Regions from separate parts of the Homo sapiens genome. Here all the other regions are reported to be linked to region 3. Evidence: microRNA targets listed by miRTarBase, many of them from high-throughput screens and not tested one by one. Region 3 holds a microRNA gene; each other region holds the end of a gene's coding sequence.
The links. The annotated mature microRNA hsa-let-7g-5p reads UGAGGUAGUAGUUUGUACAGUU and lies in region 3 at 2,469-2,490, shown strand. An mRNA with a match to its seed (bases 2 to 7 or 8) in the 3' UTR can be bound and repressed. Matches are read on the target gene's strand: a 7mer-m8 pairs with bases 2 to 8, a 7mer-A1 pairs with bases 2 to 7 and ends in A, and an 8mer does both.

Region 1 (5,074 bases), not on the chromosome of region 3:
TGCACTCCAGCCTGGGTGACAGAGCGAGAATCTGTCTCAGGAAAAAAAAAAAAAAAAACCACAAAAACAGAGCCAGGCATGGTGGCTCACACCTGTAATCCCAGCACTTTGGGAGGCCGAGGCAGGTGGATCACTTGAGGTTAGGAGTTCGAGAGCAGCCTGACCAACATGGTGAAACCCTCTCTCTACTAAAAACACAAAAAATTGGCTGGGTGCGGTGGCTCACGCCTGTAATCCCAGCACTTTGGGAGGCCAAGGTGGGCGGATCACCTGAGGTCAGGAGATCAAGACCATCCTGGCCAACATGGTGAAAACCCGCCTCTACTAAAAATACAAAAATTAGCTGGGCGTGGTGGCGTGTGCCTGTAATCCCAGCTACTTGGGAGGCTGAGGCACAAGAATCACTTGAACCCAGGAGGCGGAGGTTGCAGTGAGCTGAGATCACGCCACTGCACTCCGGCCTGGTGACAGAGCCAGACTCCGTCTCAAAAAAAAAACAAAAAAACAACAAACAAACAAAAATTAGCTGGGCGTAGTGGTGCGTGCCTGTAGTCCCAGCTACTCGGGCTGAGGCAGGAGACTCACTTGAACCCGGGTGGCGGAGGTTGCAGTGAGCTGAGATCGCGCCATTGCCCTACAGCCTGGGCGACAGAGCGAGAGTCCATCTCAAACAAACAAACAAGAACAACAACAACAAACCAAAGTGTTGGCATTACAGGCTCGAGCCACGGTGCCCAGCCTAGGCATGTCTGCATCTTAAAAAACAAACAACCACCCTTGCTGAGATTTTGATAGAAATTGCATTAAACCTACAGATTGATCTGCGAAGAAATGCCACCTTTACTATGTTGAATATTCCAATCCAAGTACACGGTTTGTTTCCATTTATGTAGGTCTGATTTCTTTCATTACAGTTTTGTAGTTTTCAGCATGCAAGTCTTGCACGTTTTGTTAGATTTAGTCCTAAGTATTTCATTTTTCTTTGAGCCATTAGAAATGTTATCATTGTGTTTTAAGCTGGGCGCGGTGGCTCACGCAGGTAATCCCAGCACTTTGGAAGGCTGAGGCAGGCAGATCACTTAAGTTCAGGAGTTCAAGACTAGCCTGGGAAACAACATGAGACCCCGTCTCTACAAAAAAATACAAAAACTTAGCAGGCCATGGTGGCACACGCCTCAGGTGATGCTAAATTAGAGGAGACTGAGCAAGGGCTACCAAGCGCTGCCGCGCAGAGAAAAGCAAGGTTGCAGGCTGGACGCGGTGGCTCACACCTGCAATCCCAGCACTTTGGGAGGCCAAGGTGGGAGGACTGCTTGAGCCCAAGAGTTCGAGACCAGCCTGGGCAGCATAGTGAGACTTGTTCCTATTGGAAAAACAAAACAAGTTGTGAAATGAGGGAGACCTTATTTCCTCATGACAGGCCTGAGCCCCCTGATCCAGTCAGGACAGAAGAACCTACCTTGAGATTCATTTTTATTTTTTGAGACACAGTCCGCTGTCACCTAGGCTGGAGTGCAGTGGTGCAATCTTGGCTCACTGCAACCTCCACCTCCTGGATTCAAGCAATTCTCCTACCTCAGCCTCCCGAGTAGCTGGGACTACAGGCTTGTGCCACCATACCTGGCTAATTTTTTTTTTTTTAGACGGAGTCTTGCTCTGTCACCCAGGCTGGAGTGCAGCGGCACGATCTTGGCTCACTGCAAGCTCCGCCTCCCAGGTTCACGCCATTCTCCTGCCTCAACCTCCCGAGTAGCTGGGACTACAGGTGCCCGCCACCACGCCCGGCTAATTTTTTTTTGTATTTTTAGTAGAGACAAGGTTTCACCGTGTTAGCCAGAACGGTCTCAATCTCCTGACCTCATGATCCGCCCACCTCAGCCTCCCAAAGTGCTGGGATTACAGGCATGAGCCACCGGCTGGGATTACATGCATGAGCCACTACGCCCGGCCTAATTTTTCTGTGTTTTTAGTAGAGAAGGGGTTTCACCATGTTGGGCAGGCTGGTATCGAACACCTCACCTTAAGTGATCCACCAGCCTCGGCCTCCCAAAGTGCTGGGATTACAGGTGTTAAGCCTCATCCCCATCCCACCTCCCACCAAAAAGACACGGGCAGCCAAAGGCAGCGTGGGCGGTCGTTGGTATACATCATACATTTATTAGTGAATATCCCTCTGAAATCAGCAACAATATTAAAAAAAATAATGATTGCACTACTTGGTCAAGCAGAACTAGCAACTTTCATTTTAAAAAAAGTACAAATCTGTTAAAAATTTCAATCAGTATACACATATATATAATACAACATACTAGTTATGTTAAATGCTACAAACCAATGTGAATCCCATGGAATGGAAAAAACCACACATTTAAGCTTTAAGAACCATTTTTTTCTCTATATATTAGCATTTTCTCAAATACATACATGGGAAAAATGAGGTAACTGTAAAATGTGCAAGGAACAGGGCCCCCAAAATTACATATATTTCTACATATATATGTAATTTTATATATATATAAAACCTTTCTAACACAGAACACAGGCGCTGGGCCCAGCCAGGGCTGGGGGAAGGTGCCCACTGTCATGCCTAGGCCAGAAGTTGGTAAATAAGAGAGTAAACAATGGCAAGCCCCCACCACAGGAAATCATTGGTAACATGGCATCTATAGCAAGGTCGGCAGATCACAAACATCCTAAGTAATTGTTGTATAAATCTTGTTTTTTAATGATGATCTTTTTAAATGCTGTGTTTCCCCCCCAATAGCTGCTTGTTGGAATCACTGCTGCAGCCGACACACAATCTGTGAGCCTGTTTCCGCCTGCCCCAGGAACTGTAAGGGGTTTGAAAACGTTTTGTTGGGGTCGGGAAGGGAGGGGTTGGAGAGGGTGGTTCTGTGTAAAACACGTGGGTTTTCAACACTGCTATAAATATAGAAACGTCACCTGGAGTTATATACAGTAAGACTTTGGGTTCTCCATGGGGGTGGGACCAGGCTGACGGGCCCCACGGCAGGCTGGGGCGGGAGGTGGGAGCCAGGGCCACTGCGAGGAGAACGAGGGTGGTTGGAGCATCCCTGAGGCAGCAGGCGCCAGGGGCTGCCTGCTAGGATGTGCCGGCCCCACACGCAGTTCGTTCAGGGCAGCAACCCCAGCTGGGTATAGGACAAGAAAGGATTGGGACCAGGGAAAGTGGGTGGGAAGCTCAGCCAGACCCTACAGCGGCCTCCTCCAGAACTTGGAGGACAGGGATCAGGCTGGGAAGGCCCCCTGGAGATGGGGGTCCACAGCCTTCCTGGTCCCCATCCTCCTGGGACTTCCTTGGAGGAGATTCGCCCAGGCAGGTGGGAGTTGGGCCCTGGCTGGAGGGAGAAATGCCCTGAAAAGCGTCGGGTCCCGGTAGGCTCTAGGGACGTGTGCAGTACAGTGCATGGCAGTTATCAGCTGAGCACAGACCCCCAACCCTGCCCCACGACCGCCGGCCGCCCAGCCCAGCCCGGCACACGCATGCATGCAGGCCGGCCAGCATGACCGTGCTCGGCCCCCTGGGCACTCGGTCCCAGTTGGTCCCTATACCCGCCCCTATTAAACCAAAAGAAAAAAGAAATTGTCTTAAATATCCACATCCCCAAATCCTACACGTGATTTTGGGCCAAATGAATGAACAAAAACTGCTGCTCCTCACGTTCATGCAAAACAACAGAGGGAGAGGAGATTGGGCACGGGTCTGGCTGCATCCCTGGGAGGGACAACCACCGGGAACACAGGGCTCCCTCTCCCCGTATGGCCCAAGCCCCTCAGGATACGTGTGCCCCAGCTCGGGATTAGGCTGGGACGCCCTCCAGCCTGAGGGTGGGGCTGGAATGTTGTTCCTGGGATGAGGGTCCCCTAGGGAACCAGACTCAGCCCTCACAGCAGCCAACACAGAGCCAGCTGCCTGAGTTCACTGTTCGGGGTCAAGGAGGGGGGATTCAGCCCTGGGGCTCAGGAAATGGCTCGTGACACCGTCTGTCTACGCACCTGGCAGTGCCACCTGGGCAGAGGGCACGCCATTTCAGAGCATGAGACCTTCTGACCCAGGATGGTGCTCTGTCTGCCCATCCTGGGGCCAAGGATCTCCACCGGCCCCACTGAGGGAGCGGACCCCTGGCACTCAGTGCCAGCAGGAAAAGGAGGGACCTGAGGGTGCACAGGAGGGAGACCCGATCAGGGACACTCAGGCAGCTCCGTGGCGGGCGGGCAGGCAGGCAGACTAGGGAGGGAGTCTTTGGAGCTTGGCAAATGCAGGGGCTTATTGCAGGGACTCCTCGCTGGGCTGACCCTGGCACCAGCTCTGGAAATGCAGGCAGGAGCGAAGGGGCAGGCCTGGGCCACTCCCTCCCCATCCTCCCTGGGCCCCACCCACAAGTTTCCAGAGCTTCAGGCAGGGTTCTCCCGGGCAGGCGGCTGCGTGGCCTCACTCAGCCTCCCTGGGCACCTCGGAGGCGTCGGCCCGGCAGATGGGACACGTCCGGTTGGCCTGTGGGAACATGCACGTCAGGCGTTGCTCTCACCAGCCCCAACCCACCACATCTGTGCAGCCACCTGGGGGGACTTGGTCCGCTGGAGCCAGAACTTCCGAGATGATGACAAGGACAAGGAGGGAAACAGCCCAGGCCAGCCCATCCCCCCGTCACTGCATGAGGAATACCCAGGAGCAGACCTGGGCAGTGTTACCTTCAACCACTTGTCAACACACTTGGTGTGGAACTCATGGTTGCAGGGGAGGACTCGGAGCAGCTGCCGCGCCTCGAAGTCACTGAAGCAGACCACACACCTGTGGAGGGGCGCGGAGCGTCACCTCCACGCTGAGGGCCATGGGAAGGCTCAGTGGAGTGTGACTCCCCTGAGAGGGGCGTCCCACGGCAGCCAGCTGTGTTCAGAGGGGTGGGAGGTGGGGCAGGGTACTCACAGCGTCTGCTCCGACTGATGGCTGTCCGGGTTAAAGCGGTACGACGGGAGCTGCTCTATGTCTGCTTTGGTGAGACCCCGGGGCTTGGCATCTCCCAGCCGCTCGGCCAGGTTCAGGAGGGCCTGC
Region 2 (5,074 bases), not on the chromosome of region 3:
TGCTTACAGGGTGGCGCGCCTTGAGAGGGCACAGAAGCTTTGAGCTGCTTTCCTGATAATTTGCCCTATGCATCCCTTCCACTTGCCTGTTAATCTGTATCCTTTATAATAACCTTTTCAATAAGCAGGTAAATGTAAAAATGTTTCCCTGAGTTCTGTGAGCTGCTCTAGCAAATTAATAGAATGTGATGAGGGGGCTGTGGAAACCTCTTCAGTCAGAAGCACAGATCACAACCTGGGACTTGCTATTGGCATCTGAAGTCGAGGGGAAGGGATTTGTGGGATTGGGCTCTTGATCTGTGGGATCTGACACTATCTCCAGGCAGATAATGTCAGAATTGAGTTAAATGTTAAAATTGAGATCAATTGGTGTCTGCTGGAGAATACAGTGTCTGAAGTGGTATGCTGAGTGGTGTATGAGAATCGGAAAAACACTTTTATAGGCTTTTCCTATCTCAAATAGCATGCATTAGATATGATAGTCAAAAAACAAATAATAAAAGTTGGATTGTCTATTTAACTATCAGAGAGACACTAATCTGAGATGCCATTTTATAGTTGAGCAATTCATTTTTTTTTTTTTCCTTGAGCAATTCATTTCTGAGTGCTTGGGGAAATCCCTTAAAATTAGTTTTGGTGACAATATTTAGAAAATACGAGGGGAAATGGATTAGTAAATAACAATCTCATTAATATACCTCAAAAATTAATTGTAAATTATTACAAAGTTATAAATTATGAGTTTGTTGATGATTATAAAAGCTTTCTAATCTGCATGTACTAGAATTATTGTAATTAAAAAGTGGAAAATAACAAGTGTTGGTGACGATGTGGAGAACAGGAACCCTCATGCATTGCTGGTGGAAATATAAAATGGTGCAGCACGTGGAAAACAGTTTGGCAGTCCCTCAAAAAGTTTAACAGAATTACCATATGACCCACCAATTCTAGTCTCAGGTATATACTAAAAGATTTGAAAACAAGGACTAAAACAGATACTTGTACACCAATGCTCAGAGCAGCATTACTCACAATAACCATATGATAGAAACAACCCAGGTGTCTTCAACTGACAAAAGGATTTTTTAAATGTGGTATATCCTACAATATGGATGAACCTGGAAAATATTATTCTAAGTGAAATAAGCCAGATACAAAAGAACACATGTATGATTTCACTTATATGAAAATGTAAAATAGGCAAATTCATAGAGACCAGAAAAGTAGATCTGAAGTTACTAGGAGCTGGGAAGGTTAAGGTCTGGGGATTGGAGAGTGATTGTTTAATGGGTACAGAATTTCTGTTTGGGGAGATAAAAAAATCTTAGAATTAGATAGTGGTGATGGGTGTGGTGGCGTGCCTGTAGTCCCAGCTACTCAGGAGGCTGAGGCGGGAGGATTGCTTGAGCTCAGGAGAGTTTGAGGTTTCAGTGAGCTATGACCATGCCACATCCTTCCAGCCTGGGTGACAGAGTGAGACCCTGGCTCTAAAAACAAAACAAAACAAAACAAAAATGCAGTGTCTAATTCATCACAGTTTCAGGGACTGCAGGAATCTATGTTCCATATCAGTAGTTCTTAAAGTGCAGTCTGGGGATCCCTGAGAATCCCCAATACTTTCAGAGACTCTACAAGGTCAAGCCTATTTTCATAAAACCAAGGAATTATTTGCCTTTCACTCTTATTTTCTTACAGGTCTACAGTTGAGTTTTCCAGAGCTACATGATGTCAAGAGACAGGCAGTAAATATTTTAGATTTGTGGGACATGGGGTCTGTCAAAACTACTCAACTCTGCCACTGTAGTAAAGCAGTCTTAGACAATCTGTTAACAAATGGGTGTGGCTGTGCTCCAATAAAGCTTAATTTACACTAATAGGCAGTGGTATGGATTTGGCTTGCAGATCCTAGTTTACCAACCAACCCCTGATCTAAACTGCAGCTGTGAATCAAACATGAGAAAATGTCTGTGTCACATTCTTACAATCCTTTGTAACAAGAAGGTGAACCACCATCTGATCACATGAAAATAACACAGCAATTCAAGAAGGACACAGTGACTACAGTGAACACTGAGAAGTGGTCCTCAAAGTGAAAGAGAAAAATAAATGCCCTAATCAAACACAAAAGCAGAAGCAGAGCAATCAGGAATCATTTAAACCAAGGCCCTACAAACTTGAGGGCATCAGTACGTCAAAGAATAGCACATAACTAATGTTCACAATGAGGATTCTGAGTCAGAGGAAATGTTTAATTATCTTCTATATATTTCTATCAAAAGAGGCAAAGAAATGTATCAATTTAAACAAGACTGGCATAACTATTTCTGTCAATGAGTATGCATTTTCCACAGTCACTACCTGTCAAAGCCTGGGTCTGACTCATGTTTCTTTCCCACTCATTCCCATCTCCAGTGAATCAGCACATCCCTTTGATCCTTCCTCAGTCAAATGCATCCTGGCACTTTACAACTACTTTGGAAAACAGTTTACCATATCTCCTAGAGCTTGAACATACACATATCCAGTGATCCATCAATTTCACTTCTAAGTATAACCATAGCACTATTTGTAATAGCCCAAACTGGAAACTGCCAAGTGCTTATGAACAGAAGGAGGAGTAATTGGATTGTAGTAAGTTTCCATAATGGCATTCCATACACAGCAACAAGAGTGAACAATCTACAAGTACACACAACAATATGGATGGATCTCACAAATGTACTGTTGAGAAAAAGAAGCCAGGAACATGATTTCATTTATAAAATGTCTAAAAGTAAGCAAAAAGAAATCTACACTTTTAACAGTCAGGACAGTTACTTTTAGACCAGGGCTTATGACTGACGCCAAAGAGAAGTTAGTTTTGTTTTGTTTTTGTTTTGTTTTTTTGAGATGGGGTTTTGCTTTGTTGTCCAGACTGGATTTGAACTGGGCTCAAGTAGTCCTGCAACCTCAGTCTCCTGTGCCAGGCTTTATATTTTATTTTTTTGGATGGAGTCTCACTCTGTCACCCAAGCTGGAGTGCAGTGGCGCGATCTGGGCTCACTGCCACTTCTGCCTCCTGGGTTCAAGCAATTCTCCTGCCTCCGCATCCCAAGTAGCTAAGACTACAGGTGCGTGCCACCATGCCCAGCTAATTTTTCTGTTTTTAGTAGAGACGGGGTTTCACCATGTTGGCCAGGCTGGTCTTGAACTCCTGACCTCAAGTGATCCACCCGCCTCGGCCTCCCAAAGTGCTGGGATTACAGAGGTGTGAGCCACCGTGCCTGGCCTATTTTTTTTTTTTTTTGATTTTCATGCAGGTTACCTGGATGTGTTCAATTTGTTCATTGAAAAAATTCATTGAACTATGTATCTATGATATGGTACCTTTCTGTATATATTTCATGGTTTACTTTAAAAATTATGTCCTAGCTTTCAATGTTATTATACTAATCCTGAACTATTATACTGCTCATTTCATACCACTTACTGGTCTCTCTACCTCTAGTTCCTATCCTTTCCAATATGGTTCAAACACAGTTGTGAAATTAATCTACCAGAAACAGTTATTTCATCTTGACCCTTCCCTTGTACCCATCCTATACACAGGAGGACTGACGTTCACGTTCCTTTTGACTTACAGAATAAAGTCCACAATCTCTAATTTAGCTTCACATTCAATATAATACTCTATATATCCCACTCTACCTTCCAAACCTCTCTCCCTCATTATTCCCCCACAGCCTGCCCTTCCTGCCAGGTTACTACTGTACCATGTGTACTACTGTTTCTATGCTTTGTCTACATTTTTACTACCTATTATTTGTAGCCTGAATTTAGCCCTTCATCAAATAATATCCTGTGATAGCTCATATTGTCATTTAACGTTATGCTGTAGATGTCTTCTCTTTTTAAATTCAGGTATAATTTATATACGATAAAATGCATGGACCAGCCTGTAGTCCCAGCTACTCAAGAGGCTGAGGTGGGAGGACTGCTTGAGCCCAGGAGTTTGAGGCCAGCCCAGGCAAGATAGTGAGAACTCTTTGTTTTTTTGGAGATAGCTGCTTGCTTTGTCATGCATACTGGACTGTAATAGTGCAATCACAGTTCACTGCAGCCTCAACCTTCCGGGCTCAAGCCATCCCCCTGCCTCAGTATCCTCCCCCACCTCCCCAGCAGCTGGTACCTGGGACTACAGGTGTGTGCCACCATGCCTGGCTAATTTTTGTATTTTTTGTAGAGGTGGAGGTCTCACTGTGTTGCCCAGGCTTGTCTCAAACTCCTAGCCTTAGGTGATCCTCCAGCCTCAGCCTCCCCAAAGTGCTGGAATAACAGGTGTGGGCCACTGTGTCTGGCCGAGACCCCATCTCTTAAAAAAAAAAAAAAGCATACACTGTAAATGGTCAGTTTTATGAATTTTTACAATTGTATATACCCACATAACTACTATCACCAAGATATAGAACTTTTCCATTACTCCAGGAAGTTCTCCTGAACGCCTTACCAGGCAATCTCCCCTTTCCTGATGCAGAAAACTACTTTCTGAATTTTTACAACCACAGATTAGTTTTGCCTGTCCTTGGTGTTACATACATACCTTTCTGATAATTACACATTTCTATGTTCAGGAGAATGTGAAGGAGACCTCAGAGTGGAACTAAGGGGTGGTGTAGCAAGACCATGTCGACGCATCTCTTGGATTGCTCGTTCTCTGTTAGTAAAGATCAAACAAGAGAGATATATTCAAGCACCAGGGAAAATCAAAAAGTGGCAAACAAATATAAGAGTTATTAGCTAATTTGTAATAAATTACTTAGTATTACTATTAAATTTAAATCCTATGTCTTTGTACAATTTTTAAGTAGTGGATAAAATATTTCAATTAAAAAATTAAATATATATATATAGTGAGGAGCATCTTGCTTCTAAGGTATTATTTTAATGACCTAATTGCTTTGAACAATCTCTTATAGTGCATATTCTTTTAATGGAAATCTTTTATCCGCTACTTAAAAATCATACAAAGACATAGGATTTAAATTTAATAGTAATACTGATATACTAATTATACTAATTATATATATACTAATAT
Region 3 (5,074 bases):
TCTATTTTCTTATCAGACCAAAGAGAACCCTGTACAGTAAGAAATATGGTGTGGACCTCATCAGATACACTCATGCAGCAAACACAGTTGTTTACAGCTCTAACAAAATAGACGGTAAGCAAGCCTTTTTAGGAAGTTAAGGTCATGGTTTCCTTTGTTAAATAGTTCATGGAATCTTTGTGACTACTTCTGCTTTGTGACTACTTTAGTTTAAGTATTTTCATATAATGTTAGTAATGTTAATTGCATTGTTTTGACTGAAGGAATGCTGGAAGCAAGCCATTGGCACTTTTGAAGGACTTGGGACTGAGTATGAAAAGTCTTCAATTCAGAGTGGGGAGTGGAAAAAGGAAACAACTAATTGTGTTTATGATTTGTACTTCCTGACACTTAAAAGAACGCTTTTAAAGCCGGGCGTAGGGGCTCGCGCCTATAATCCCAACCTTTGGGAGGCTGAGGTGGGCGGATCACTGAGGTCAGGAGTTCAAGACCAGCCTGGCCGATATGGTGAAACCTTGTCTCTACTAAAAATACAGAAGTTAGCTGGGCACAGTGGTGCACGCCTATAATCCCAGCTACACAGGAGGCTGAGGCAGGAGAATCTCTTGAACCCGGGAGGCAGAGGTTGTGGTGAGCCAAGATCACGCCATTGCACTCCAGCCTGGGCGACAGAGTGAGACTCCATCTCCAAAAAGAACACTTTTAGAACAAATAAAAGGAAAGAACACTTGATACACAGCAAGTGATAAACAACAGGACTTTTTCTTTTAAAATGATAGAGATTTGAGAAAAGTTTCACAAATGCTTGAACTATGATAGTTTAAGGGAAGTTAGAACAGTTTTGGTGTTTTCCCAACCTTAGTCACTTCTGATTCCAGGAACGTTTTTTGATCTAAAGAGTAGAGTTACTTTTAGAAATTGAACTTGTGAGTTTCTTTCTATAATAAACAATCTCTGTTTTTGCCTGCATGTCTCGAGATAAATCCTAAGTTAACAGATTGTCTTGGTAACTGAACTGTAACACTTATTTTCATGTTAGAATTCTTTAATTTTTTAATTTTGTTTATTTTCTTTTGTTTGTCTGTTTTTATTTTTTGAGACAGAGTCTCACTCTGTTGCCTAGGCTGGAGTGCAGTGGCGCGATCTCAGCTCGCTGCAACCTCCGCCTCCCGGGTTCAAGTAATTCTCCTGCCTCAGCCTCCCAGGTAGCTGGGACTACAGGTGCATGCCACCATGCCTGGCTAATTTTTTGTATTTTTAGTAGAGACAGGGTTTCACCATGTTAGCCAGGATGGGTCTTGATCTCCTGACCTTGTAAGCCACCGTGCCCGGCCTATTCTTTATTCTTTTGAGACAGAGTCCTGCTCTTGTTGCCCAGGCTGGAGTGCAATGGTGCAATCTCGGCTCACTGCAATCTCAGCCTCCTGGGTTCAAGCGATGCTCTTGCCTCAGCCTCCCAAGTAGCTGGTATTACAGGTGCCCACCAACACGCCCGGCTAATTTTTGTATTTTTAGTAGAGTTGGGACTTCACCATGTTAGTCAGGCTGGTCTCGAACTCCTGACCTCAAGTGATCTGCCTGCCTCATCCTCCCAAAGTGCTGGGATTACAGGTGTGAACCACCACGCCCGGCCAGGATTCTGTTTTTAAACTTATTTCAGTGGATTATTGATGATCATCTCACATTTTGCAGTAAGGTTTTTTTTAGGCCGGTGGCTACATAGTGGCTCATGCCTGTAATCCCAGCACTTAGGGAGGCCTAGGAGAGTGGATCACTTGAGCACAGAAGTTCGAGATTAGCCTGGGCAACTTGGGAAAACCCCGTCTCTACAAAAAATACAAAAATTAGCCAGGTGTGATGGGACGCGCCTGTAGTCCCAGCCACTTGTAAGGCTGAGGTGGGAGGATTGCTTGAGCCCTGGAGGTCTAGGGTGATCACACCACTGCACTCCAACCTGGGTGACAGAGCGAGGCTCCATCTCAAAAAAACAAAAAAGATTTTTCTAATGTCATTCCACAAGGATAGCTTATACTGCTATTTTGGCTGTGCCTATCTCAGAGCAGAATGGGCGGAAGTCCTTTTTTCCATTTTTTTTTTTTTTTAATGAGACTCTTCTGCCTGTATTGATTTTTAGTTAAGTATGTCATTTCTACTTTTCATGCCTGTATTTCAGAAGTGGTTTTCTAAGGAAGCAGTGTAGTTAATGATTTTGGAAAAGAATGTAAAACCTTAGGATCCTGAGGAAACATGTCTATGTGATCATCCGAATGACTGGTTTATTTCTTCTGTTGGGATGTTTTTCTGAGTGATTAAATGAGGATTCTCCAAATGTGGTGCAAGATGAGGCAAATGTGTGGCACTTGTAGCTTTGCTGCCAAGCCTCTGCTGTGAGGATGTTCCCTTTCCTGTCTCAAGTGCATCCTGAAGAGTTCCTCCAGCGCTCCGTTTCCTTTTGCCTGATTCCAGGCTGAGGTAGTAGTTTGTACAGTTTGAGGGTCTATGATACCACCCGGTACAGGAGATAACTGTACAGGCCACTGCCTTGCCAGGAACAGCGCGCCAGCTGCCAAGTGGGGCTGAGAGGATGGCGTCACCCTGCTCATCTCTGGGAAACCAGGTAATGGGGAGGAAGTCTTTTTCTTCTTAGGGCAGGTGAGTCATTGTTAGCAGTAGAATAACTAGAAATACTTCGTAGTTGTCATTCAAGAAGTTTGAAGATGTTTTCAAGGAAAATTGTGTAGTGTTCAAGTTATGGAATATACAAATATCCCTATTCCCCTATTCCCCCTCCCAAGTTAAATGCCCTCTTATTAGAAAGCACCCCTGTGAACCCCTGGGATGACTCGATGCTTTCAACCCCTTTATTCCTATGTTCTGTTTGCCTTCAGAATGTTCTTTCTATGGTTTTCTTTCTGCATTTTGGTACCATTTTCCCTTAGCTGTTTCTCAACAATTTTTCCTTATTCCTAGTCTTTTTAAGGGGATAATACTTTTCTATTTTGCAGTTTTATTCTTTATGGCACTTCATTTCTCTACCGCCACCATGTTTTTTGTTTGTTTACTCTTTCAGATAGAATCATTTGGTTAAGAGTGTCTTATTTTTCCACAAGCACAAATCTCTGATTGTTCCTTTCTTTAATATTGTCAAAATCTCACTGCTATTACTCATTGGTATAAGAATTTGATTTTTTTAATGTCTTAAGATCTTTTTAACCCAGATCTTGACATCACTTCTCTGACGTTTTGTTTATTTTCATTGTAATTTGTGTGTCCAATTGAAGAATGTTCAAATGAGTTGAGGGTGGGTCAACATACTGATGGAGAACTCTAGACAAAAATTGCTGCCAGGGTTCAACCTGATCTTCAGTTTAACTGCCATGGCTGCTCACCTCTTTAAGTCTGTTAGCTCAACAGCCACATATTTTTCTTTAAGGTTTGCCATTCTGTGGACACTAGACCAGTATCTAAAATTATTATGTGTGCTTTACTTGTTTTTGTTTTTTGACCAGGGTATATTTGCAGGGTGGGAGTTGCATTGTAATTATGAAGAAACCAAATTGGTAATAAAAGGTCATTTCAAACATTGCTTTCTATGCTGTCAACTTAAGAACTCTGCTTTTGAGTTAGGTGAAATCTACATACCCACTCTTCAGCTGCAGAGTAGAATTATTCACCATTATTTATTCATGCCTTGCTTGGGATATAGAATACAATGGATTATTTGACCTTGTCTTTTTAAGATGAAAATGTAAAGTAAATTTCTTTTAAATAGTATGATATCATCATACCTTGTTTGTCTTTTTACAGATACTATTCGTTACTTGTCCTTGCATGACAACAAATACATCAGATACTTTCCTGGACATAGCAAAAGGTAAGACCCACGTATTATAGAAGCAGATAGTTCTTTTATCCCTGAGGTTACCCAGAGAATAGAAGGCTAGAGAGAGCTTATTAGTGAACTGAAGCTACTTCCTCACTACTGCTTGGCATTCTTCATCTTCTCTTAAATAGTCAACTCTTGATTTACTGAGGTTATAGAGGTGCAGAGGTAGGTGTTCAGAGATACCTCAGTTAAAATATAACTAGGCCCAGTGCAGTGGCTCACACCTGTAATCCCAGCACTTTGGGAGGCCGCGGCGGGCGGATCACTTGAGGCCGGGAGTTTGAAACCAGCCAGGCCAACGTGTCAAAACCCCATCTCTACTAAAAATACAAAAATTAGCCAGGTATGGTGGTGGACACCTGCAATCCCAGCTACTCGGGAGGCTGAGGCAGGAGAATCGCTTGAACCCAGGAGGCAGAGGTTGCAATGAGCCGAGATCGCGCCACTGCACTCCAGCTTGGGCGACAGAGTGAGACTCCGTCTCAAAGATATATATGTATATATATTTTTTCTAGTTATAGGTATATCTATTTCTAGTTAGATATATATATTTCTAGTTTTATATATACATATAAAACTAGAAAAAATGTGGATTAAAGATATTCAGTGAAAACTTATGTAGTAAAAATTAGATTTGGCATTTAGGAATACCAAATCTCACATATCCCTTAATAAAGGACTGTTTGTGTTTATGAGGCCTTCCAATATATGTGGCCCCCATTTCAGTGGGCCCCTATGTAAAAATGTTCCATTTAAAGATCTTAATGAGAATGCAAAAGAAAGTCCTTTTTTTAAAATCAAGAAGTTTATCTCCTTTTTCTGTATTGTAATGCAGGTTGCTTCTCTCTGTTCTTCACCCCAATGCCCCTAGTTACTTTTTTCTCTAATTTTTCAACTTTTCTTTGAATGTTAAACACGTTTTCCCCTGGATAATATTTTAATCACTTGGGGTATTTTTTCCTGCATCCATTTGCAAATGTACAGTAACCCAGGATGGTTTCGATTGGTATGGAGCCCTGACAGGAGATGGCCTGAGAGCCTCCTGTTAGAAATTGCACTTCCAGGCCAGGCGTGGTGGCTTAATGCCTGTAATCCCAGCTCTTTGGAAGGCTGAGGAGGACAGATTGCTTGAGTGCAGGAGTTCAAAACCAGGCTAGGCAACATGGTGAAACCCTGTCTCTACAAAAA
Region 4 (5,069 bases), not on the chromosome of region 3:
TTTCAGACAGAAATAAGGCAGTGATTATTTTAAAGTCCCCTTTGCCAGTTGGATCTGTGTGTTTACAAAGAAATCTCATACCCATGTGTGTGCCAGTCTACGGCCCTAGCTATGATCCACATAAGCTGTGCTGTTCGCTGGTTTGGGATGAGGAGGAGATAGCAGAATTGCCAGGTGACTGGTGAGGTCTGAGAGGTGATAGTCACACTGATCCCCTCTGAGTGTGACTGGTGCTCAGGGTTGATCTTTGCCAAAACTGAACAAGGCCAAGTCTGTTGAAGCAGTTTTTACTTCATAAACAGAATTAAGGAGGCAGGGATTATCTTATCCTTTTTTTTTTTCACCTTTTAACTTCTGGTTATATTAAAACTGTCTTGGCTTATTTTCACAAATAAATGAGGGGCCACGAATTGTTGCTTCAAAAGGTCCATTCAGTGTTTGCTCTTTTAGGAGGGGGAAGGGAAGGACGCAGCTGTCTCTACTGCCTCGTGCCCTGCAGCGCCCAAGTGCTGCAGCTCCTCAGGCTGAGAACGGCCCTGCCGCGGCTCCTGCAGTTGCCGCCCCAGCAGCCACCGAGGCACCCAAGATGTCCAATGCCGATTTTGCCAAGCTGTTTCTGAGAAAGTGAACGGGACGCTGGGAGACAGGAAATGCCTTACTTCACTCTGGCCCGGCGGACCTCCCACCACCCAGCAGTGCACTGGGGATGGACAGGCCTGGTGTGCTGCGTGCTCGCAACCACAGATGGCTCCTCGGCTTTAGACAGAAAGGGGAAGGGGTTCTAAGTCAAGAGCCTTTCAGTGCTCCCTCATATTGAGGGCAGTGGCAGAAAAGTGACCACTCTGCAGGCTGGGCCCAGGATGTGGTGTCCTGAGATAGTTTTGTATCTTAAAGACTGAGGCACAGAAGCGAAACGAGAACACACTGTTTTTGAGACACAGTTGTCCAAATGTTTCTGGCCAGCTCCGGCCCCTTTTTGTATGACACTTCTCTTCCACCCTGCACAGCACATGTGCCCGTCATTCTTTTAATTTTAAAAGATGAAATGGCAGATGCTAGTAATTCACAGAATGGCCTCTTGTGGGGGTGGGTCTGAGGGAAGTCAGCTATAAAACATTTGCTGGAGTTTTGTTCAATGGGGCTGTGCATTTTTATATTATGTGTTTGTAAATGACATGTCAGCCATTGTTTCATGTTTCCTAAAAGCAGAATATTTGCAACATTTGTTTTGTATAGGAATTATTTGTGCCACCTGCTGTGGACTGTTTTCTTTGCCTAGTGACTAGTGACCTGTGTTGTCTAAACATGAGTTTCAGCCCTTTGGTTTTGTTTAATACCATGTCAAATGCAAACTTCAATTCTCCCCATTTAGCTTTATTAAACTGACGTTCTCTTCAAAACTTCTTGCTGAATGGTACTCAGATGTGCATTCACATACAGATGTGTTTTGAAGTGGGTGTACCTTGCTTTACCTAATAGATGTGTAAATAGAACTTTTGTAAGTCAAATCCCATTGTCACTTTGATTTAAATTATTCCAGCTGTGATGTGTCTTCATTTTATAGCAGTTTGACACTGGAGCTTTTGAGCTTTTTTACCTCACATCTTTTATCAAATAATATTTACTGCTTTGAAAACAGCAACAGCATTGGCCAGTTCAGTAGGGGAAGCTTGCTTTATTAAGACACTCTGGAGAAAGACGTCAGGGAATCCTTGTATATGTCGTGGGAATCAACTCCTCATTTATCTGTTGCGTAAGTTTAAGTTTTTGTGCATCAGTCGGGTTTTCTATATTTTTTTAACTTAACATTTTTTAATATAACCGATTAAAAAGTAGACAGAACAGTAAAATAAACTCCTGTGTGCCTACCATTCAGCTTCCAGCATTCCTCAACTCCCAGCCCCTCTTCCTTCATGTCTGTTTCCCCTCCACCCTCTGTTATATTGAGGCACGTTCCAGATGTCATTGTGCTCATCCAGTAATGTTGCGGCAGGTGTCTCAGGAGGACTGAAAGGCCTTCACTCCTAGAAACATTAGTGGTAATCCCTTCATGTCATCAACTGTCCACTCAAATTTCCACCTTCCTACAAATATCAGCTCTCCTCCCTGTAAATTATTGGTTGGTAAGCCTCTTAAGTCTTAAAAGGTAGGTTCCCCTCCATCTCTTTTTTATACAAAACCAACTTTTTACTAGGCTTTACTTCTGAATTAAATTCAAGCGGCGGCTATTGACAGCAGCAAGAACCTTTGCTGTCCCACGCGTTCCTCCTGCAGTGTTCTCTGTGATGCTGCTTGGAAGGCTGATGGACTGTTCAGCTGGTGTGATGATTTGGGTAGCTCAGAGCCCTCATGGTTGGGGACCTGACACATGAAGAGCCCTGAATATCACTATGGGTGAGTGTGGCCTTACTTTTTGCTGCTTCACATTAACGGTTTGGCTTTGCCTGCAGCCAGTATTCTGACCTTAATGTCACACTTGCAGATGTCAGCCCAGGCTTGGTACAGGGGCAAACCTTTTCAGGCTTGAGCAGAACCCAGTTAGGTTCCGGGTGTTGACTGTTCTAGAAATGGATTTCCAGGACTACATGAGTGGGTTTGTGTGTTTTCCCCAGAAAATCCAGAACTGATGATAAATAGAAATGTGAAAAACTACTTCAGTTACTTGACTGTTTGTTAGTAAAAAAAAATCAGTAATTCATCCTTGCCCACCTAGGTAGGCGGTTTATCCAACTTCTGGGTCTCTTGCCCATGGAAATCACCATCTTGGATCTGTTGCTCTCCCAGAACAGTATTATGAATAGGGCTAAAGGTCAGAATACCCCCACTGCCCTTATGACAGATGGGAACATCTCCCAAATAAGACAGTCTCAAGCATTCATGTAATAAAATAACTTTATTAGAATCAGGAATTTGTTAAAATAATATCCTTCACATATAGCTAAAGTGCAAATTCTCTTGCTCTGTAGTAGAAGCAAGCACATCTGTCAGACCTCCGTGGTGTGCTTATAAAACCAAGACGAGAAGAGTTTTAAGAAGTACCTCTGGCAGCATAAGAGTACGAAAACACATTTTATAAAGGTTTGAACAATTATCATTTGGAGCCATTTCATATATCGTGTATGTCTTTTCACTTATTTTTCTTAACCTTTCAAAAACTACTCTGTGCTATTTATACAACTGAAGAACTGTATAAACTACTTTAGAGCAGTGGCCTCATTACTGTCAGGAACGGAATTACCAAATCAAAGAGACAACACTGCGTATTCGCCATCACTCACACACTGACAAAGTGCAGTAGTGTTAGACATCATGGGCTCTGTCACTGGGAAAGGGACCCAGTGACTTCCACCTCTCTGACTCTAAATAGCAGCAGTCATATTGGCACCTGTACCATATGATTCAAAGAGAAGATTCTACTTCCATTGGATGACAGCTTGGAAACCCGGCCATATTACATAGAGCACTACATCATTTCACAAGTTGCGAGAAAAATAAGGCCACTCCGAGGCAATCTCTTCTGCCTCCCAGGGGGATGGGACACGGGACAGTGCAAAGACCGTGGAAGATGGCAGTAAGTAGATGAAACTCCAGGACCAAAGGGATGCAGCCTGGCCATGGCTGAAGGTTTTTGCTCCATTCAGTAGAAACTGGTGCTCTAATTCATTATCAAAAATGCTTACTTGGTGTCCACATGGCACTTGTTTTCTCAGGTTAACATCTGCCTACAGAAAACTCAGGCAGAGGGGTGAGGGCAGATGCCTACTAGCATAACACCTGGTTTGCAGCACGATACAGGTGGAATGACAAGCCCAGAGAATTTCAGACGAAAACATCTGGCCTGAGTTGCTACAAATGAAGTGTGAGAGAAACGCGGATACACAAAGAAAACCAAACTGCCCGCCCACCATGTTTCCCCCTCCAACATACAGCTCTTTATGGCTACCCCCTATTCTTAATTAGAAAAATAGTCTCAATATGAAAAAAAAAAAAAAAAAAACAGCTGCTGGCACTAAAGTTTGCAAACTATGGCTCAAAAAGTCTTCCTGCAGGTAAGTAAGGAATGTCGGCATTCATTTTCTCTTCTATGAAGTTTGCTTGGAAGTTAGTCACCACTAATCTAAACCTTGAGAAAGTGAGCTTTCAACCATTTCTCTCAGCTGCGACTTGGGTCTGACTTCCCAGTTGCAGTCACAGAACCTCTCAGCCTGTTTCAGAGAAGCACTTGGAGGAGTTATGTCAGTGGCTCTGGGCCCCGTCCCACACCTCTTGGCCGCTCCTCCACCTTAGTGCAAATTCTGCTCCAGAACCTTTGTTCTGGTCACATGGTGGCACTGTTGCCCCTAAAGCACGGCCACCAGCAAGACACAGCAGACACCATACAATACTGACTAGCTTGCTCCAAAGAAGAAAATAAATAGCTTGGTTGAATTATAAGTTATTTTAGAGACAAGGCTTCATAACTTAGTTTTTTTTTTTTTTTAAAACTAAAACATTTGGAGGTAAAGAATGTTTCTCCTTTTGCTTTAGGAAGTGACTAGGTTTCTAGAAATGCTGTTTCTTTTTTTTTTTCCTACCTCAGGACAGCCTTTGTCACTGAGGATTTCTAGGGTTAGGGCTTCACAGGAAGCGTCTCCTTGAACCCAGAGTGGTTGGGTTGGGCTTCTGGCAGTGCCACCGAGTACTCAGTTGTGGCAAAAAGCAGGGTGTCCAGGGTGGTCTCAGTACACTTGGCGATGAAGCGAATGAAAGGCCTCACGTCGCCCTCGTTGGCAGCTTCCAACACGTGGTAGTAGTCGGACCGCTGCTCCTTGCGGATGGTGATGGGCGGGTAGCCCGCCTGCATGAGGATGAGGTTCATGAGCAGACGGGAGGTCCTCCCGTTGCCATCAATGAAAGGGTGGATGTAAACGAGTTTATAATGGGCTAAGGCTGCAAACTCCACTGGGTGCAGGTTCATGGCTTCCTCGGAGTTGAGCCACTGTACAAACTCCTGCATCTGCTTTTCCACATCCTGCGGATGGGGAGGGATGTGGTGTCCGACCAGGACCTGTGTTGTCCGAAACCTGCCG
Region 5 (5,074 bases), not on the chromosome of region 3:
CCCTGTCTCTACTAAAAATACAAAAATTAGCCAGGCGTGGTGGCACACACCTGTAGTCCCAGCTACTTGGGGGGCTGAGGCAGGCGAATCGCTTGAACCCGGGACGCGGAGGTTGCAGTGAGAAAAGATTGCACCACTGCACTCCAGCCTGGGTTACAGAGCGAGTCAAAAACAACAACAACAAAACCTAGTGACATTTTTATTGGGACTGCATTGAATCTGCAAATCAACTTTGGGAGGATTAACATACTAATATTGAGACTTCCAGTTCATGAACATGGTAAATGTCCTCATTTACTTAGGTATTCTTCAATCAGTCTCTCAGCAACATTTTGTAGTTTTCAGTGTACAAGTCTTGCATAATTTTGTCAAATTTATTTCTAAGTATTTCATAATTTTATGCTCTTATAAATTACATTTTTAAAATTACATGGCTGGGCACGGTGGCTCACGCCTGTAATCACAGCACTTTGGGAGGCCGAGGTGGGCGGATCACGAGGTCAGGGGTTCGAGACCAGCCCGACCAACATGGTGAAACGCTGTCTCTACTAAAAATACAAAAATTAGCCGGGCATGGTGCGGCGAACCTGTTAATCCCAGCTACTCAGGAGGCTGAGGCAGGAGAATCACTTGAACCTGGGAGCCAAGACTGCACCACTGCACTCCAGCCTGGGTGACGGGGAGACTCCGTCTCAAAAGAAAAAAAAATTACAATGTGGATTGGCTTCCGTTCCCCCTAAAAAAGCAGCACTGAGATTTCTATAGGCAGCAAGGTGATCAATATCCTATCCAGCAGCCAGTCTGGGGAAGTGGGGGAGCAATGGAAAATGAAGATAATTCCTCCTTCAAGGGATTTTTGTGAAGCTGAGGTAGGAGGCAGATGGGACTCTACTCCAGAGCAGGTTGAAGACGCTGAAATCAGGAAAAGGCGCTGAAAGCACTTCCCCGTAAGACAGGCCCGCCATTGCCATGGCAGTTTGCCACTGCCTTGGCAACACTCGGAAGTTACTGCCCCTTAGCATGGCAACAGCTGGAAGTTACCACCCATTTTCTAGCCCATTCTGAATAACATTTAGCATCTCGTATGTCTTTAAAAGTGGGTATATAGGCTGGGTGCGGTGGCTCACGCCGGTAATCCCAGCACTTTGAAAGGCTGAGGTGGGCAGATCACAAGGTCAGGAGTTCGAGACCAGCCTGGCCAGCATGGTGAAACCCCGTCTCTACTAAAAATACAAATTAGCCGGGCATGCTGGCCGATGCCTATAATCCCAGCTACTCGGGAGACTGAGGTATGAGAATCACTTGACCCTGGGAGGCGGAGGTTGCAGTGTGCTGAGATCACACCACTGCACTCCAGCCTGGACAACAGAGTGACTCCATCTCAAAAAAAATAAAATAAAATAAAAGTGGGTATAAGCCAGGAACAGTGTCACACCAACCCCAGCACATTGGGAGTCTGAGGCTGGAAGATCACTTGAGCCCAAGAGTTCAAGATCAGCCTGGGCACATGGCAAAACCTTGTCTCTTAAAAAAAAAAAAAATTTAAAGAGATGGGGTCTTGCCATGTTGCCCAGGCTGGTCTATGAACTTCTCGGCTCAAGCGATCCTCCCACCTCAGTATCCCAGAGTGCTGGCATTACAGGCATGAGCCGCCAATCCTGACCCCCTACTCCCAAATTTTTTTTTTTTTTTGAGACAGAGTCTTGCTTTGTCACCCAGGCTGGAGAATAGTGGTGAGATCTTGGCTCACTGCAACCTCTGCCTCCCCAGTTCAAGCAATTCTCCTGCCTCAGCCTCCCAAGTAGCTGGGACTACAGGCGCCCGTCACCATGCCGGGCTAATTTTTTTGTATTTTTAGTAGAGACGGGGTTTCACCATGTTAGCCAGAATGGTCTCGATCTCCTGACCTCATGATCCACCTGCCTCGGCCTCCCAAAGTGCTGGGATTACAGGCGTGAGCCACTGCACCCAGCCAATTTTTTTGTATTTTTAGTAGAGGTGGAGTTTCACCATGTTGGCCAGGCTGGTTTCAAACTCCTGACCTAAAGTGATCTGCCCACCTTGGCCTCCCAAAGTGCTAGGATTACATGCATCGACCACCACGCCCAGCCTAAAACGATTTTTTCTTTAATTAGCTGAGTGTGGTGGTGTGTAACTGTAGTCGCTGCTACTCAGGAGGCTGAGGTAGAAGGATCACTTGAATCCCTGGAGTCAAGGGTGCAGTGAGCCGTGATCATACCACTACACTCCAGGCTGCGTGACACAGCAAGACTCTGAAAAGGTCCCATAAACCGCAAGATCTGGATCCATACTTTGGTTACCCTACGTGTCTCTCTTGAGCCCCAGAGGGAAAGCCCTGACACCATGACAGCAAAAACTTGACAACTGCAAAGGCCACAGCATCCAGACACCAGGAGTACTGGCTGGGTCACAAAAGGCACATCCCAGGACTATAGAATCTTTCAGTCTCAGGATAATGGCCATGAGAGGTGAACAGCCCAGAGAGGATATGAGAATCCAGAAAGTCTGTAGATTATTTGCTGACAGTGACCTTGACACAAATAACAGGTCTGCAATTGCTGAGAAGTTCTGGTGCCCTCACCCCAGGAAACCTCAGTTGCTGGAACATTTGTGGATGCCTCTTTAGAACTGGCTGAAATCCTCTTGTTTATCAGACACTTCACTCCATACTACTTCACTCAATATTTCTATGCCCACTTACTCTACTCAAATTACTCTACCCAACAGGCCCCTATAGGTCTTAGAGTCAGTCTATAACTTACCTCCATGTTCCAGATTTTGGAGAATATGACTTTTGAGCTGAATCTGGAAACAGCTCCTTCTGACCAATGCTGGAAGTTCTGGAACATTCCCTGGGAACAAGGAACCCAACTTTTTATGTCCATAAACATATAGAAGATCTCTCACCAACTATTCCCTTCCGCAAGGTGAGCTCTGGACCCACAAAAAAGCCTGACATCCAGGCTACAAGTCTTTCCCTGGAGGACTCAGGGGCCAATACAAATTAGGCCAACCTTGACTAGAGGTATTTTCTGTCATCCTGCCATCCCCACTGAGGCAGAAAAAACTCAAGAGACCACCTCCACAAAAGCCATTCCCTCAACTTACGGTGATAGTGCCGGATTCTATTCTCAATCTCTCCACACACAGGGATCAGAACCTCAATATTAAAAGAGACTTGGCAGGGCACAGTGGCTCACAACTATAATACCAGCACTTTGGAAGGCTGAGGCAAGAGGACTGCTTGAGGCAAAGAGTTCATGACCAGCCTGGGCAATGTAGCAAGATCCTGTCTCTATACAAATTTTTAAAATTAGTCAGATGTGGTGCCACACAAGTACAATCCTAGCTATTCAATACGCTGAAGCAGGAGGATCACTTGAGTCCAGTAGTTCAAGTCTGCAATGAGCTAGCTTCACACTACTGCACTCCAGCCTGGGCAAGACTGTGAGACCCTGTCTCTAAAAAAACTAGGCCAGGCACAGTGGCTCCCAGCACTTTGGGAGGCCAAGGCAGGAGGATAGCTTGAGGCTCAGAGTTCGAGACCAGCTTGGGCAATATAGCAAGACCCTGTCCACAAATGAAAAAAAAAAATTAGCCAGGTGTGATGGCGCACACCTGTAGTGCCAGCTACTCAGGAGGCTGAAGCAGGAAGATCCCTTGAGACCAGCAGTTCAAGGCTGTGGTGAGCTATGATGGCACCACTGCATTCCAGCCTGGGCAACAGAATAAGACCATCTCAAAAAAAAAATAAAAAAAAAATTTTAAGCGGCTTAAACAATAAAGCCTTTATTACCACATAGTCCAGAGCAGTATGAGACAGTCCATGCTAGGGCATGACAAATACCATGTGTAATGTCAACCATTTCCATGAAAATGGTAAACCTTCCCAGGAAGCCCCCAGCAGATACCAGCTCAGCTCCTCCGGCCAGAGGTGGGTCATGTCCACAGCTAAACCAGTCAAGGGTAGGGAATGAGGCCTGTTTTGGGCTCCACTATTAACGATTCTCTACTGTTTAGAGCAAGGAGCACAAGGTCTGCTGTCCCACTTGCTGTAGGGACCTTATGGGGTGGATAGAGGTGGATGGCGGTGGATAAACTCAGTGATGTGACACTGCCAACAGCCCCAGGCAAGTCAGAGTGCAATGTGGCTCCCGAAAGCGTCCCACACACCAGGCACACACGGGAACTCTCCCTGGGGTGGGTGTTGGGATGTGCAAGGTTTAGCTTCTTTCGGATGGCACTCTCACGGCCACTCTCCTTAACCTCCTTTCTGGAATAAGACCTTTCCTGATGAACACGGTGCTAGCAGCTAACGACCTTCCCATGTGCCCTGTCCTCCTGACGCCTTTCTGGAGTATGGACTTTCTTGTGCTGAAGGAGGGTGGAACTATGTTTGAAGGCCTTCCCACACTCTGTACATTCATAAGACCTCTCTTCAGTGTGGAACTGCTGGTGCCGATTGCGGTAGGATCTGGTAGTGAAGGTTTTCCCACACAGGCTACATTCATAGGGCCGTTCCCCAGTGTGGACTTTCCAGTGCTGATAGAGGCCTGAACGGGTCACGTAGCCTTTCCCACATTGCTTGCATTCAAAAGGCCTTTCTCCAGTGTGAACTCTCTGGTGAAGAATGAAGCTATTATTGTATTTAAAGAACTTCCCACATTCTGTACACTCATAGGGCCTTTCTCCAATGTGCACTTTCCGGTGCCGAATGAGGGTAGACAGAACACTGAAGGTTTTACCACATTTGCTGCACTCGTAAGGCCTTTCTCCAGTGTGAATCCTCTGGTGTAGAACAAGTGCGTCTTTGCGGTTGAAGGTTTTACCACAGTCACTACACTTAAAAGGTTTTATGCCTGTGTGAACCTTCTGGTGTTTCCTCAGCTTAGACGGGTAACTGAAGGCCTTCCCACATTCATTACACACATGGGCTGTTTCTCCAGTGTGAATTTTTCGGGGGTTAATATGAGCTGACTTCTTGAAAGCACTTCTGCCTGTTGGGCATCTGAAGGGTCTCTCTTCAGAATGCGTTATCAGATGGTCAAGGAGG
Region 6 (5,074 bases), not on the chromosome of region 3:
TTACTAAGCTTCCTGTCTGTATAGATTATTATGTTTTAATAAATTTGGGGCCGGGCGCGGTGGCTCAAGCCTGTAATCCCAGCACTTTGGGAGGCCGAGGCGGGTGGATCACGAGGTCAGGAGATCAAGACCATCCTGGCTAACACGGTGAAACCCCATCTCCACTAAAAATACAAAAAAATTAGCTGGGCGTGATGGTGGGCGCCTGTAGTCCCAGCTACTCGGGAGGCTGAAGCAGGAGAATGGCGTGAACTCGGGAGGTGGAGGTTGCAGTGAGCCAAGAACGTGTCACTGCACTCCAGCCTGACCGACAGAGTGAGACTCCGTCTCAAAAAATAAAATTAATTAATTAATTAATTAGGGAAATTTTTAGCCATTATTTTTCCAAAATTTTTTCCTCTCCTTTCTCTCTTCTTCTGGTACTCCCATTGTGTGTATTTGGTGCACTTAATGATGTCCACATTTCTTTGAAGTTATATTCACTTGTCTTTTTTTTTTTTTTTTGAGATGGAGTCTTGCTCTGTCACCCAGGCTGGATCTCCCCTCACTGTGGGTTCAAGAGATTCTCCTGCCTCAGCCTCCCAAGTAGCTGGGACTACAGGCACTCTCACACTGTCATGCTGGAGTCAACCTCCCATTTACTCTGATTTTTTTTTTTAAAGAGATGAGCCCAGCGCTTTGGAAGGCCAAGGCAGGGGGATCACTTGGGCCCAGGAGTTTGAGGCCATCATGGACAACATAGCAAGACCGCGTTTCTAGAAAAATAAAAATAAAAAAATTAGCTGGGTGAGGTGGCATGTCCCTGTAGTCCCAGATACTTGGGAGAGTTAGGCGGAAGGATCTCTTGAGTCTACGAGTTCAGGGCTGTAGTGAGCTATGATCACAGCTCTGTACTCCAGTCTGCGCAACAGAGTGAGACCCTGTTTCTTAAAAAAAAAAAAAAAAAAAAAAAAAAAAAAGATGTGGTCTCAGTAAGTTGCTCAGGCTGGTCTCTAACTCCTGGATTCAAGGAATCCTCCCACCTCAGCTTCCAAAGTAGCTGGGACTACACGCACATGCCACCATGCCGTCTTGATAATGTTTTTTAAATTTTAAAAATAATTGTTTTTTGAAATGGTATCTCACTCTATAGCCCAGGCTAGAGTGCAGTGGCATAATCTCGGCTCACTGCAACTCCACTTCCCGGGTTCAAGCAATCCTCCTTCCTCAGCCTCCTGAGTAGCTGGGACTACAGATGCCTGCCACCGCAACTGGCTACTTTTTGTATTATTAGTAGAGATGGGGTTTCACCATGTTGGCCAGGCTGGCCTTGAACTCCTGACCTCAGGTGATCCACCTGCCTTGGCCTCCCAAAGTGCTGGGATTATAGGCGTTGAGCCACTGCACTCAACCAAATCTTTTTTTTTTTTTTTTTCGTAGACAGGGTCTCACTATGTTGCCCAGGCTGGTCTTGAACTCCTGGCCTCAAGCCATCCTCCTGATTCGGCTTCCCAAAGTGCTGGGATTACAGGTGTGAGCCACTGCGCCTGGCTTATTTTCTGTAGTTACTACTGGAATTGGATCTTTGGTCTCTTACATTTTCCAACTCTCGCTCTACCGCTATATTGGGAAACTGTTCACTGTTGTTTACTTTTTCAACTTAACTGGTGATCAGGCTCCTTAGGTAACAGAACTTACTCATCCAACAACTTCCCAGGGGCTCTCGTGTTTGGGGGCGGCCCCTGGTCCTGGTCGGGGCGCTCCTCTCATTCCCACCCAGCCTCACTATTGCGGAAGGAAACCCTGCGGCCCATGTCCTGCCCTCTGGGACACTGGGTGCTGATTGACGGCAACCCTGACCGTGGGCACCTCCCCAGTCCAGGAGATGGTGTGGGTTGTGGTGGCTTCACCCACCTACACTTAAAAAAACAAAAAGCTACTCAGGAAGCTGAGGCAGGAGGATTGTTTGAGCCTAGGAGGTGGAGGTTGCAGTGAGCCAAGATCGTCCCACTCCAGCCTTAGCAACAGAGCCAGTCTCAACTAAAGAAAAAAGTGTCTCAGGTACCGTGCCATGGCTTCATGAGAACTGATGTAACCCCCGACTCTGGGCAGGGCTGCCAAAGAGTGAGAGAGTGGAGACTCTCTCTCACCACTCACTTCCTGGCAGCTACTTTTCTGGATGCATGGGCAGGTCCCCTACACATGAGATGGTGTGGGTTGTGGTGGCTTCACCCACCTACACTTAAACGAAAAGCTACTCAAGAGGTTGAGGCAGGAAGATCGCTTGAGCCTAGCAGGCGGGAGGTTGCAGCGAGCCAAGATCACCCCACTCCAGCCTTATCAACAGAGCCAGTCTCAAAGAAAAAATTAACTGTCTCGGGTACTGTGCCATGGCTGCATGAGGACTGATAAAATACCCGACTCTGGGCAGGGGTACCAAAGAGTGAGTGGAGACTCTCTCTCACCACTCACTTCCTGGCAGCTACTTTTCTGGGTGCACAGGCAGGTCCACTGCACATGGTAACAGCCTGCCGACTCTGGAAACACAGTTCAGGATCCCAGTCCTAGTGCACTGGTCAGACTTTCAAATAAGCGAATAACGTTGTGGGCAGCCTGTTTTGTTCGCTTTGCTGGCTTTACAGGGTACTTCCTGTTGGCCTGAAATACAATGTTGGTAAAGACAGTTTTTCTGTGGCCTTTCTCTGTTGTGGAGGATTTGTTGTTTTTAAATTACGATTCAGGACTGAACTGTATCATAGAATGTCCTTCTTTCAGAATGCTTTGTGCCAAAACAAGAAACCTCAGAATTACATGTTAATAACAACAAACAAAACAAAAAAGACCAATAGGCAGAAGGCAAGAAACAAAAACTATTCTTTGTAGATGGTGTCATTTTACCAAAAGTTAACAGAACTAAACCAACAAACTATTGAAAATTAACAACAGTGAGATGACTATACAAATATATAATTAAAAATAACTTTCCCATGTAAAAGCAATAATCAACTATAAAAATATAATGGAAAAAACTACAATAACAAAATTGTGTAAAACAAGTGAAGAAAATTAGAAAAATTTTCACAGGAATATAATACTCTAATAAATAGAAAGGCATGTTTCTGGATGGGAAACATACACTATAATTTTTCCCAAATAGCTTATAGGATTTCTTTATTCCAATCAAAACACCAATGTATAACTTTTGGAAACCTAAAGCAAGCAAAACTGAAGAATCCCTAAATCGCACCACACGATCAGTCCGTAAAGGCACCGCTGGCCTTGCTTCTAGGCAGAGGACAGGAAGGTATGGATATCAAGAGGCTGAAGACAATTAATACCCACTACAATGAAGACACCTGGAAACCTGTCTCTTGAGAGGCAATGTGAGCTAACCACTGGAGACGTAATTTCTAATCATACAACACTTTGCCTTGTGAGGTAGTGACCACCCCATTGCCAAAGGTCTGATGACAGCATAGAGGGGACCTAAGCATATGGTAAGGTTATTGATGAGACATGGATCCAAGCCAACTTTTTCCTGCCTCCAGGTTGACCCTTCCTCTCTGGGTCTTGGGGTTTCCTTCGTAGCACATGAGATCTGGGCTCAACAGAGGGACAAGATTCTGAAGAGCTTTTCTAGTGGTGGGGCTGGATGGCCCTGCCTGAGTAATCCAAACTTCTTTTAGCAAGGGAGAAGCATGAGACGGCTGCTGGAGAGATCAACAGCAGAACAAAATACAATAAGAACAGTAGACACCTAAATTATGTTGTGAAAAGGAATCTGTAAAAGTCAGTTTTATCACAAATTGTAAATATTATTGAAATTGATTGCAAATTTAGATCACATACAAATGAGAGTCTGACATTCAACTGTTTTCCTATATTCCAAAGTAAACAATTCCTTTCAACACTCAAGACTTAAACAGGTATTCTTAGAGGGTTATATGAATTGCTATCAGAAGCTGTTGGCTAACAAGCCAGTAATTTGGTTCTTTCACCAGAACACAGTTCCAGATAAGCATCTTTGCACTATTTCTCAAGTATGAATCCCCATGTGGGGGGAAAACGGATATACTTTCAATAGACACAAGTCACTCTTTGCCTTCCAAGTAAGCAGACTCCAGATTCATCTTCAAAGTGTTGGGAAAGGGGATCTGTGACCTGTACATTATCATATAACTTCAAAAAGGAAAGCTCCTTAGTCCAAAAAGCCTAGATGCTGAGGTATAGCCCTTGAAATGTTTTCTTCCCTGTGAATTTTCTAGCAATTTGAGGTTTTAGCTAAGATGGGCATTTATCCAATTTTGGCAATAATGAGATTTTTACACATTTATACCTTTTTAGGCAGCTTGGGAATTCAGAACTACTTATGAAAGCTCTCAGGTTGAGGCAGCACCATCAGACCCAGAAAGGGTTCCCAGTATTACTTCTGCTTTCGGGTCTTACAGGCTGAGTGGGTTTTCTCATGCCGGGTACAGTTTGACAGCCGACCAAATCTTCTCCCACATTTTTTGCAACCATATGGTCTCTCAGCCTCATGACTCTGCAGATGAAGCACAAACTCCTCATTCTTTGGGAAGGTTTTCCCACATTCTGGACACTTAAATATCTTCTCCCTTATATGGATTCCTTCATGACGACTCCGATGAGAATTCTGACGGAAGTTTTTTCCACACTGAGAACAGGAATAAGGTTTCTCTCCTGTATGAATTCGCTCATGTTTATTGAGGTTTGTTTTATGATTGAAGCTTTTCCCACAGTGATTACAGTCATAGGGTTTTTCTCCAGTGTGGGTCCTCTGGTGGGAAATGAGGTAAGAACTTTCATTAAACTGTTTCCCACACAGTGGACAAGTGTACCATCTCCTTGTCCTCCGATTTCGAGTAAGGGCAATAATACTGATGTCTACATATTTTGAGAGTTCCTCTAGAGGAGTATCATTCTCAATGGTAACTAACAGATTTCTCATTTTCCTTTTTTGTGGAATGGATGTATTTAGTCGTTCCTTTTCCTGGTTATCGGGAGGCTGCTGAGAGACCAAGGAAGAATCCATTTCATCATCATCTGAAGACTTTTCTCTATAATCTTCATTTTC

Region 1: miRTarBase lists RNF44 as a target of hsa-let-7g-5p. Seed matches in the 3' UTR shown: 7mer-A1 at 2,435-2,441.
Region 2: miRTarBase lists CEP135 as a target of hsa-let-7g-5p. The part of its 3' UTR that is shown has no 7-base or 8-base seed match.
Region 4: the mRNA of SART3 is a reported target of hsa-let-7g-5p. Seed matches in the 3' UTR shown: 7mer-A1 at 1,595-1,601.
Region 5: the mRNA of ZNF584 is a reported target of hsa-let-7g-5p. The part of its 3' UTR that is shown has no 7-base or 8-base seed match.
Region 6: miRTarBase lists ZNF200 as a target of hsa-let-7g-5p. Seed matches in the 3' UTR shown: 7mer-A1 at 4,200-4,206 and 8mer at 3,414-3,421.

Annotation. Positions count from the first base shown.
Region 1 is chr5:176,524,575-176,529,648 of GRCh38, forward strand. It overlaps RNF44 (ring finger protein 44), which reads right to left. Exons shown (of 11, transcript NM_014901.5): 9 at 4,949-5,070; 10 at 4,714-4,813; 11 at 2,138-4,516. The coding sequence ends at 4,454. Among named protein-coding and RNA genes, the nearest start is that of RNF44, 10 kb to the right of the region's middle.
Region 2 is chr4:56,024,120-56,029,193 of GRCh38, reverse strand. CEP135 (centrosomal protein 135) reads right to left here. Exons shown (of 26, transcript NM_025009.5): 25 at 4,580-4,693. The coding sequence ends at 4,591. Among named protein-coding and RNA genes, the nearest start is that of CRACD, 22 kb to the left of the region's middle.
Region 3 is chr3:52,265,752-52,270,825 of GRCh38, reverse strand. MIRLET7G (microRNA let-7g) reads left to right here and starts at 2,465; the gene lies at 2,465-2,548. WDR82 (WD repeat domain 82) reads left to right here. Exons shown (of 9, transcript NM_025222.4): 2 at 17-114; 3 at 3,808-3,874.
Region 4 is chr12:108,519,016-108,524,084 of GRCh38, reverse strand. It overlaps SART3 (spliceosome associated factor 3, U4/U6 recycling protein), which reads left to right. Exons shown (of 19, transcript NM_014706.4): 19 at 451-1,871. The coding sequence ends at 628. FICD (FIC domain protein adenylyltransferase) reads right to left here. Exons shown (of 3, transcript NM_007076.3): 3 at 2,875-5,069. The coding sequence ends at 4,610. Among named protein-coding and RNA genes, the nearest start is that of FICD, 6.3 kb to the right of the region's middle.
Region 5 is chr19:58,417,037-58,422,110 of GRCh38, reverse strand. ZNF584 (zinc finger protein 584) reads right to left here. Exons shown (of 4, transcript NM_173548.3): 4 at 3,784-5,074. The coding sequence ends at 4,327. It also overlaps a transcript of ZNF324B not described here. Among named protein-coding and RNA genes, the nearest start is that of ZNF584, 11 kb to the right of the region's middle.
Region 6 is chr16:3,219,490-3,224,563 of GRCh38, forward strand. It overlaps ZNF200 (zinc finger protein 200), which reads right to left. Exons shown (of 5, transcript NM_198088.3): 5 at 2,836-5,074. The coding sequence ends at 4,403. Among named protein-coding and RNA genes, the nearest start is that of ZNF200, 13 kb to the right of the region's middle.